2 separate regions of the Homo sapiens genome follow, and region 2 is linked to region 1. Evidence: fine-mapped expression QTL. A gene starts in region 1. The other region holds a variant in brackets. All regions are shown on one strand. Distances are between the middles of the regions.

Evidence for each region. PIP is the estimated chance that this variant, and not a neighbour inherited with it, causes the effect.
Region 2: its variant is fine-mapped to the expression of ANKRD33 in tibial nerve (GTEx, PIP 0.97).

What each region holds. Positions count from the first base shown.
Region 1 is chr12:51,884,980-51,890,353 of GRCh38, reverse strand. ANKRD33 (ankyrin repeat domain 33) reads right to left here and starts at 2,251. Exons shown (of 5, transcript NM_182608.4): 1 at 2,023-2,251; 2 at 1,536-1,786; 3 at 1,158-1,287; 4 at 872-982. The coding sequence starts at 2,167.
Region 2 is chr12:51,852,408-51,857,781 of GRCh38, reverse strand. FIGNL2-DT (FIGNL2 divergent transcript) reads right to left here. Exons shown (of 3, transcript NR_135803.1): 3 at 5,053-5,088. Among named protein-coding and RNA genes, the nearest start is that of FIGNL2, 6.4 kb to the right of the region's middle. The variant T/C (reference allele first, on the strand shown) is at 2,343.

The DNA.
Region 1 (5,374 bases):
ACCTAGGGCAGAATAGGGATCTCCTCAATCCAAGGAGCTGAGCAGAGCAGCGGTGCAGGCTGCCCAGGACAGGCAGAGGCCTGAGCTGCACCCTCTGGGGCAGGTGGGTGGGGATGATCGGCTGGTTCCCTCTCCTGGTTCTTCTCTTCTCACCATCTCCCTCTCCCATCTTGGGGTTGTGGGAGGAGCAGTCACTCTAAGACAAAAGAAAGGGTGTAGAGCGCCCTCCTTTTTCATTCACTCCTTTTTCACTCCAAACCCAGTGGGGTGTGTGGGGAAGGGAAAAATGGAGGCAGGGGTCCCCCAGAGTGACCAGCAGAGGGCAGCCCCACTGCGGGGAAGAAGGGCCCCCAAACAACTCCATGGACAATGTGGACTTCACCGCACCTCCCCCTGAACGACCCCACAGAGCCACAGGCCTCAACGACACTTCCCTGGATCCCCTGGAAGCCTGGCTTGTCAGAGTTGGAGGTAGTCCCAGGGAAAGCTAACACCCTCACAATACTGGTGAGGCCCAAAGAGGGAAGCCACTCAGCTAGGAACAGGGGCTGGTTCCAGATGCCAGCCTTTTTTCGTGTTAGATTTTCCAGCTGGGCTAGGTTCCCCTCCCACACTTTCCTTCCTGGGACCTCCACACACAATGTCTGAGCTATCAATAGCAGGACTTGGTTGATTGTACGAAGCCCAAATCATGTGCCCCCCCCTCCAGGAAGGTGAACTAGATTGATCCCCCATCTCCACCTCTCTCCTTTCTGCAAATAATCACAGCTGACTTAGTGTCTGGTGGGAAGGCTTGGAGGAGGGACTGGAGGCCACACACCCCGGTCCAGGCCCCGCACACCTGCCATGAGGAGGGTGGCCACGCACTCACAGCGGTTCCGCATGGCAGCCTTCATTAACGCCGTGAGCCCCCGCTGGTCCCGGCGTTCCAGGTCCAGGCCCACATAGTAGTTGAGCAGGAGACTCACTAGAGGCACGTGGCCTGCAGGGCAGCAAGGGTAAGCTTGGTCCCCAGGAAAGGGGGTGATGAAGCTCCCAAACCGCCCTCCACCCAGCATGACAGAGTCTGGTGTAGAACACCGTGCAACAAGGGTGGGGCTGAGGCCCTGTCTGCATCAAAAGGGGGCTGTCGGAAGTGGGGTGCAGCAGCCTCACACCTGCTTGGGCAGCCAACATGAGGGCCGTGTCCCCTCCTTTGTCCTGCTGGTTCACATCAAGGAAAGGACAGTGGCTGAGCAGGGCCACAACACTCTGGAAGCCGTGGTAGCATGCGACCATGAGGCCTGTCTGAGGGAGGGGCAGCTCAGATCCCCTGCTTTCCCCCTGGGCCACTCCAGGGCCCCTTGCACCCTCTAAACCCATATCTGTCCCAGAGCCTGCCCCAAACCCCGTGAAGACCCGCCCTTAACCATTCCCTTCCTCCTTAGGACTGCAGGAGGTATTGCCCCTGAACCCCTCTCAGGGAGCCAGGCCAGGACGGTGTGGTGGGGATGCAAAGATGCCCCCAGCTGTTCTGGGAAGCCAGGACATCTCACCCTCCCATTGCTGTCCACCTGGGTGGCCTCCTCTGGGGAGACCCCACCATCCAGTATGGCTTGGAGCTGGGTGGGATCATTGTGGACACAGGCCCAATACAGGGCCCCCAGCCTGCAGCCTGGGGTGGGGGTCTCCTTGCCCGGGCAGGGCAGTGCCTCAGACATGTCCAGCCGTCTCCTGTGCAATGCCAGCTCTTCCTCTTCCAGGCAGGGAACCAGAAGGTGAGTCCCTTTTCTCATGCAGCTGGCATCTAAAACACAGAATGGAGAGGAGTAGTGAGTGTCTCCCTGGATCCTAGGGAGGGGACCCAGCAGCTGCGAAGTGCACAGCCCTTGCCCCAGGGAAAACATTTATCCCAGCAGGGGTCTCGCCCCATCCACCCTGAGAAAGGACAAGCGCTGGGTCAGGAGCCCTAAGCAAGCAGGGTTCACTCTAGGTCAGCACCCCAGTGAGACTCACGGAGAGAGGGTCGTCGTTTTTTCTTACTTGGGGTTCGTAGGGTATCTATGAGGCAGTCAACGCGGGGCACAGCCCAGGCTCCGCGGAGCACAATCACTGGGTCTCCGAATGCCTCCAGGTGGACTATCCCTCCCCAGGAAGCAACGCAGGTAACAGATGGCTGGACTTTCATAAAGAGCTGCTGCAAACACCTCGGGGCTGAGCCGGATCAAGCAGCTGGGACTGGGGCCCCATGCGGGGCGGGTGGTCACGTCTCAGGAGCGGACTCAGACCAGCCCCAAGATCCTCCGGGTGGGCGGGGCCTGAGCCGGGCAGCTCCTCCCCGCCGGGGCGGGCTCACAAAGACGACTCCTCCTGACGGACGCGCCCACTCTCAGCCTTGGGGACGCCGGCGGAGATGCTGCCTCGTGGGGTCTTGGCCCAACTTTTTAGGCCCAGCCTAAAGCCCCTCCTAATTGGGTGGAGCGCGACTTGCTGAAGGGGTGGTTGCGGGAGAGGGGGTGAGTGAATGCAGGTATCTCATTAAATAGGGTTGGTACTCTCAGAATGACCCTGGGGTGGGGTCTCCAGGGGGGTCACCTGAACTTATTTTTTGAGGTTCTGGGGAAATAAAAACATAATTGTCAAATTATGAGTATAGAGCTGGGCCCGGTGGCTCACGTCTGTTATCCCAGCGACTCAGGAGGCTGAGGTGGGAGGATCGCTTGAGCCCGGGAGGTCGAGGCTGCAATGAACCGATGTCGCGCCACTGAACTCTAGCCTGGGCAACAGAGGGAGACCTCCTTTTAAAAAAAAATTGTGGCCAGGCGGGGTGGCTCACGCCTGTAATCCCAGCACTTTGAGATTCCAAGACGGGTGGATTATCTGAGGTCAGGAGTTCAAGAACAGCCTGGCTAACATGGCAAAACCCTGTCTCTACTAAAAATACAAAAATTAGCTGGGCTTGGTGGTGGGCGCCTGTAATCCCAGCTACTCAGGAGGCTGAGGCAGGAGAATCACTTGAACCCGGGAGGCAGAGGTTGCAGTAAGCCGGGATCGCACCATTGCTCTCCAGCCTAGGCAACAAGAGCGAAACTCCTTCTCAAAAAACAAAACAAACAAACAAACGAAATTGTGAGTACCGACATTATGTGTCTAGTGCAGGTGGGCAGTCGGGGCACAAAGTGCGGCAGGCAGTAGTGAGGGAGGGATTGGCCAGAAATTATGATGTATGAAATTTAATAGATTAGTTTCAGTGTGATAAATTAAATATGAAATATTTAAATTAAATGATCTGTTAATATAATGATAAATTGTTATCAAAATATTCTTTAATATTTATATTACATATTAAGCTTGATGGATTGGTCTTGGTCCACAGATGTAGAAAATGGAGCCAATGATATTCCCCCATTGGTATCACTCCCATCATCAGACTGTACAAGACCTCTCTCTTGTTTTGTTTTACTTTCTTTAGTTTCTCTCTTTCACCCTTAATCCCCACATCCCATTCTCCTCCACCCTTTACCAACTGGCACTTGTATATCCTTGAAAATGTACATTTCATTGAAAAAGATAGTACTGATTTGTGTGTTTTTATTTTATTTTTTTCTTTTTAGAAACAGGGTCTTACTCTGTCACCTGGGCTGGAGTGGAGTGGCATGATCATAGCTTACTGCAGCCTCAAACTCCTGGGCTTAAGTGATTCTCCCACCTCAGCCTCCCGAGAAGCTACGAGCTTCTCGGAGGCACACAGGTGTGTGCCACCGCGCCTGTCTAACTTTTTTATGTAGAGATGGGGATCTCACTTTGTTGCCCAGGCTGGTCTCAAACTCCTGGCATCAAGTGATCCTCCTGTCTTGGCATCCCACAGTGCTGGGATTGCAGGCATGAGCCTCCATGCTCTGCTTGTATGTGTTTTTAACTAACATGTTATGAATTGTGCTATAGAACTTATTCTGTTAGTTTTTTCTTTTTCACTTAAGCTCCATCCTTATTGCTTTAGGTGCAGTGTATCAGTTGGATGTGCATTTGGTTTTTAGTAACCAAAAAGCTGAATGGTATGTTGTCCATAATAGACGGGCTCCTCAACATTAATCTAAAACTGCTTTCAGTGTTTCTTCTGCGCTGCAGAAGTTGGAAAGCTAAAACAACCCTTCCCAGATTCCCTTGAGCTATGACTCTGTGGTTTGCGTCCTGCTCTTGTGCAAGATATAAATTTGGAACAGAGCTACGTAGCATGGGACATCCGTTTTGCTGTCACAGGTCATGGCAGCAGCAGCAAGGCTCTGGTGAGCAGCTTCCTGATTCATCAGCTTCCTGTAGTAGTGACTGTTGTTTTCTCAATCACAGGCAGAGGTCATGTGACTCTCAAAGCTGGGGGTTGTTCCTGGACCTAAGCCTGCTTCTCCATCCCTTTCTGTTTAAACTGATCAGATTTCTTTCTTTCTTTCTTTCTTTCTTTCTTTTTTTTTTTTTTTTGAGACAGAGTTTCACTCTTGTTGCCCAGGCTGGAGTGCAATGGCGCGATCTCGGCTCACCACAACCTCCGCTTCACGGGTTCAAGTGATTCTCCTGCCTCAGCCTCCCCAGTAGCTGGGATTACAAGTATGTGCCACCACCCCGGCTAATTTTGTATTTTTAGTAGAGACGGGGTTTCTCCATGTTGGTCAGGCAGGTCTTGAACTCCTGACCTCAGTTGATCAGCCCACCTCGGCCCCCTAAAGTGCCGGGATTATAGGCGTGAGCCACTGCACCAGGTCCAGATTTATTTCTGTTGTCTGCAATTGAACTCTGACACATGTAGCTTAAACAAAGAGGTGCTTGTTTTTAATACATGATAAAAAGTTCAGGAATAGGAAACTGTTGATGTTGGTTAAGAAACTTGTCAGGGCCTTCTCTGGGATTCTCTTGACTTTTCCTCCTTGGCACAAGATGGCTGCTAAACCTCTAGCCATCACAGCAAAATGGGATAGATGCACCCTATGGAATTCTATACAGCAGTTAGAAAAAAATCTATCAGATGATAAACCAGACATCTCTGATTATCTAACACAATCCCTGTTCATAACTCCCCTTCTCTCTAGTTACCTTTCAGTTAGGTGTTATCATGTAATGCAGTTTTGGCCAATGAAATGCAAACAGAAGTCTGATGGATAGGGATTCTAGGAAAAAAGTTCATGCTGTTGTTGTAAATAAATTTTCAATGCTGCAAGGAAATAGCACTCGAACATAAATTTAATTTTCTCAGCATGGCAATTTTTACTTCTATAGAAGGGTGCGAGTCGTGAATGGAACAATGGCAAGAGCACACCTGGACAGGAGAGGAGAAGGAGTTCTTATTCCTGACACACGGCCCTACTGCTGTGGCGTTCCCCTATTGGCTAGGGTTGGACCGCAC
Region 2 (5,374 bases), 33 kb after region 1:
GCCTCAGCCTCCCAAAGTGCTGGGATTACAGGCGTGAGCCACCGCGCCCGGCCAGTGTTTTTTCTTTCTAAAGTACATGAAGTATGGTGGTTCATGCCTGTAATCCCAGCACTTTGGGAGGCCGAGGTGGAAGGATGGCTTCAGCCCAGGAGTTCAAGACCAGCCTGAGCAACACAGCAAGACCCTGTCTCTGAAAAATCAATCAATCAATCAATCAATCAATCAATCAATCAAGTACATGAAGCAGCAGTGCTTCTTAACATCATTGGTGTCTAAATTGGATGAAATACGATCATGTATTTTCCTTATAGTAGAAGCCATTATGAGGGGAGTTTTCTGGCACTTGCAGCAGAGGATCTGAATTCAGGGGAGCATAGGAATAGGGCTGAGGAGGAGGTGAGTAAGGGGAAGCAGGGAACAAGTCTATGAGGGAGAGTGGGCAGGGATTTGTGGCAAAAAGCTCAGGAATATTTCCAGAGGTAACTTTGTGAATGGGTCCCTGTTGAAGTGTGTTTGTTCTAACCCTCCAATAGGTTAATAAGAGCCTGGGGTGTATACCACCCATGATGCCTAGCAATTGCTGGTGGCATTGGAAATGCCTGCATTTCCCAAACAAAAATAAGGACATATGACCTAACATAAGAGTTTTCTGGCTGGTGCAGTGGTTCATGCCCATCATCCCAGCACTTTGGGAGGCCAAGGCGGGCAGATCACTTGAGGTCAGCAGTTCGAGAGCAGCCTGGCCAATGTGGCGAAAATTCATCTCTACTCAAACGAACAAACAAACAAAACCTACAAAAATTAGTTGAGCGTGGTGGCGCATGCCTGTAATCCCAGCTACTCAGGAGGCTGAGGCAGGAGAATCACTTGAACCCGGGAGGTGGAGGTTGTAGAGAGCCAAGATCACACCACTGCACTCCAGCCTGGGCGACAGGGTGAGACTCTGTCTCTAAATAAATAAATAAATAAGAGTTTTCCTATATTTAAAATTTTTGTGTGCCCCAGTAAGCCTTTACCATTTACAGCTTTACGGCCTTATGACTGATGCAAGGGAAGATGGAAACATGCTGGGGAAGGATGCTTCGTCAGGGATATCAGGTGCCCGTCGCAGCTCCCAGAAGTGTGGCCAGTTGTTGGGCAAATGTCCAGGGGCCAAAATCCGCACAGGGTATGAGGGGGCCTGGGGTTGGAGATCTGGTTAGTGTTTTGAGCAGAGTTACACATGGATCGGGATTTATAGACTTTGAGGAGTTTGCCTTCCCATCGGGAGGGAGTGGAGCTGTATCAACAAACACACTTTGCGAGAGGGAAGCCGGCAACCCAGGGGCTTAAGTTCCCAGGGTAAAGGGCAGCCCAGGATTTGAACTCGGGCAACCTGGCTCCAAAGCCTGTGCATGCCTTAGTCACTACATTTCGGCCTTTGAGATCTGTGGGGAGTTTTGCAACCACTGAATCCAAGCTCCTGATTTTACAGTTGAAGGAGCAGGACTCGCCCAAGGTCCATGGGGATGGGGTGGCTGAGCAGGACTCGGCTGCGGGGCGTTGTGGATTAGTGTTGGTAAAAGGAGGGGCGGGGGCTGTAGGCATGGAGGCTAGCTGGCCTCCCCACCCTGCCGCAATGCAAAGTGCCCCTGCTTTCCATCTGGGGAAAGGGCGCAACTTGATGGGGGTGGAGGGCGCAGGTTCGGGAAGCCGCCCGCCTCCTTCATTCCCGGGATTCCCAAGGCAGCCATTGTCCAGGAGGAATGTTGGACCAGCAGCACGGAGGGCGGGGCCTCTTCCCGTGCCCCAGACAAGCCTGCTTTGTGCTCTCCACCCCGGCCCCTCCTGGCCGTCACCAGCCAGACTTTCCCAGCATTTTTCAGGGGTCTCAGGGCAGGTCTCTAAGAGATGAAGTTACTTGGAGAGGAAAGGACCATGGGAGATGTACTCAACCCTGGAGGTCTGGGAGGGCTGCCTGGAGGAGAGGTGAGAGCACTGCCCAGAGGCCTGGGCTCCTGGCTCCTCAGAGATAAAAATATGCATTCCTAGCCTCTGGTTACCAGAACTTTATCCTAAGGCAATAATTAGACGCGTGCACAAAGGTGGAAGTTACAGGTTTGTTCATGAAGCTTTTATTTCTGGAAAAAAATCAACAACAAAGGAAACTTTTTTTTTTTTTTCCAGAAGAGTCTTACTCTGTTGCCCAGGCTTGAATGCAGAGGTGAGATCTTGGCTCACTGCTACCTCTGCCTCCCAGGTTCAAGCTATTCTCCTGCCTCAGCCTGCCTAGTAGCTGGGACTACAGGAGTGCGCCACCATGCCCACCTAACTTTTGTATTTTGAGTAGAGATGGGGTTTCA[T/C]CATGTTGGCCAGGCTGGTCTCAAACTCCTGACCTCATGATCCGCCCGCCTTGGCCTCCCAAAGTGCTGGGATTACAGGCAAGAGCCACCGCACCTGGCCAGGAAACTTTTTAAATTAATTTAGACATGTCCACTTGATGGAATATTAAGCTGTCATTAACAATTGTGTGGTATAAACGTATTATAGACAGCAAAAGATGTTCAAAATATTTGTCCATTGTCTGGGTGCGGTGGCTCACGCCTGTAATCCCAGCACTTTGGGAGGCCAAGGCAGGTGGATCACTTGAGGTCAGGAGTTTGAGACCAGACTGGTCAACATGGTGAAACCCGTCTCTACTAAAAATGCCAAAATCAGCCAGCTGTGGTGGCACATGCCTGTAATCCCAGCTACTTAGGAGGCTGAGGCAGGAGAATTGCTTGAACCTGGGAGGTGGAGGTTGCAGTGAGCCGCGATCACACCACTGCACTCCAGCCTGGGCAACAGAGCAAGACTCCCTCTCAAAAAAAAAAATTGTCTATTAAGAAAAGTATATTATAAAACACTGTGGAGATCTCTCTATATATACATATGTGTGTGTGTGTGTGTGTGTGTGTGTGTGTGTGTGTGTGTGTGTGTGTAGAGAGAGATAAATAGAATAATATCTAGCTGACTCCAAAATGGTTTTTTGTTTGTTTTGTTTTGAAATGGGGTCTTGCTTTGTTGCCCAGGGTGGAGTGCATTGGCGCAATCACGGCTCACTGCAGCCTCAATCTCCCTGGCTCAAGCAATCCTCCCACCTTAGTCTCCCGAGTAGCTGGGACCACAGGCCCCCCACCACTGTGACCGGCTAACTGACTCCAACATATTACTGGTGGTTATCTCTGGGTGGTGGGATTAAAGGCGTTGGATTTTTAATTTTTTTGTTTTCTGCTTATCTATTTTTTCTTATTAGTGTTTTTTAAATAGTAGAAATGGGTTTCACTCTGTTGCCCAGGACTCATGCAATCCTCTTGCCTCGGCCTCCTGAGTAACTGAGGCTGTAGGCACATGATGCCTTTCGAATTTTTATAAAAAGGTGTTCTGCTTGTGTAACTAAAGTGTGTGTGTGTGTGTCTATGCGGGCAGCTTAACTGCCCACTACTCTAGGGTGGGTGTCCTTCACCCTCAGAAGTTTCTCCAACGTGGTACCTGCCCTGGGAGGGTAAGAGAGACAGCTGTTGAGGCATTAGAAAAATGAGTGTCAGATAGGCAGCCCCTGAGCCTAATCATAATAGCAACAACTCACTTAGCACTTTGCAAGGCGTTTTCACACACATTATCTTATTTGAGTCCCACTACGACCCTGTGAGGTCACATCATCGTCCTTTTCCAGGTGGGGAGACAGGCTCCCCAAGATTAAGTGGCTCCCCAGAGACAGTGCAGAAAGTGACAGAGGTGGGATTCAGTCCAGGGTCTCTGACCTTCAACCTTGGCACCCCTCTGTCTCCCTGACTCATGTCCATTACAGCATGCAGCATTTGTTCATCCACCTGTTCCTGTCCCCCACTGACCCTGGGATCTTACTTGAGTCACTGTTCCTAGAACTTAGTAGACTCAGGCATCAGTACATGCTATTGAATAAAAGAATGAATGAACATTCAAACCTGGAGCCCTGGTGGAGCAGGTCATGGTAGGTTACAAACTTGTTCTTTAGAGTCCGTGCATTCTTTTTTTTTTTTTTTTTTTTTTTTGAGACAGAATCTTGCTTTGTCAGCCAGGCTGGGGTGCAGTGGTGTGATCTTGGCTCACTACAACCTCCACTTCCGGGGTTCAAGTAATTCTTCTGCCTCAGCCTCCCAAATAGCTGGGACTACAGGTGCCCGCCACCACACCTGGCTAATTTTTGTATTTTTAGTAGAGATGGGGTTTCACCATCTTGGCCAGGCTGGTTTCAAATTCCTGACCTCAAGTGATCCATCTGCCTCAGCCTCCCAAAGTGCTAGGATTACAGGTGTGAGCCACCGTGCCTGGCCTAGACTGTGCATTTTTATACTTGCTATATTCTCTGTATTTATTTCTCTTTTGTTCTTTAACATTTTGCAAAGCTCTTTGGAAGATGGCTGACAGCAAGAGTTGCCAAAGGAATGGCTCTGCCTGGATCTGAACTTGTTCCTCCCCACTGTACACACCCATAACTGGAGACAGCCACCCCTGAGGCCAAGGGAGCAGAGGGGAGGCTCTTGGCTGGCTCCCTTCCTTACCTGAAGGGAAGGTTTCTATCTAGGACCAATGCTCGGGAAGGATGAGATTCTACACACTGAGTCTTGCGGAGCACACACCCTCCCTTCCACACCCTGGCAGACTCCAGACCCAAAGAGGTGGAGGTTCAAGGGTGGGGTGCAGATACCGAGGCTGGATGAGTTAGGGAAGGCATCCTGGAGGAGAGACCTGGAAGGCTGGTGTAGGAAGGGGAGGAGGCTGGGGCTGAAGGGAGAGAAGCAGGGAACCTACTCCAGTAGTGCTGGATGATTTAAGTACAACCAGATGTGCTGGGAATCTCCTGTCAGGCTCAGGCCCAGAGAGGGCAGAGTGGGGGTGGAGAGACCTCTGGGCCACTTGGATTTGCAGTTCCCTATTTTGCCCTGGGTCTGTAAACTTTAGGGAGCGAAGAAGCCCAGTAGGATTCCAGAGGTTCCAGATGGGCTTGCATGTTAGAGGGCGGATCGTGCAGGACTTGGAGGAGGCTTCTGCCTTTGGACAGGATGGAGTGGGCTCAACCCCTGGAACCTAGGGGAAAAAAAAGATTGGAAGTGCTCTGCTAGGATGCGGGACAGATAGGGAAGACTTTACAGAGAAGGGCATACCTGAGTTGGGTTCTGAAGGATGAATAGGAGCTCATCAGGCAGAGTAGGGAAATGAGATTCCAGGCAGAAAGATTCTGAGGTATTAAAAAGGTATGCATGTTTAGTGGGAGTTTCTGTGTGACTGTAAGGTACATGGTGGGATCAATTTGGGGTGCTGGCTGAAGAGCTATGCTGCAGGATGGTGCAGGATGTGCTTCTGCTCAAAGAAC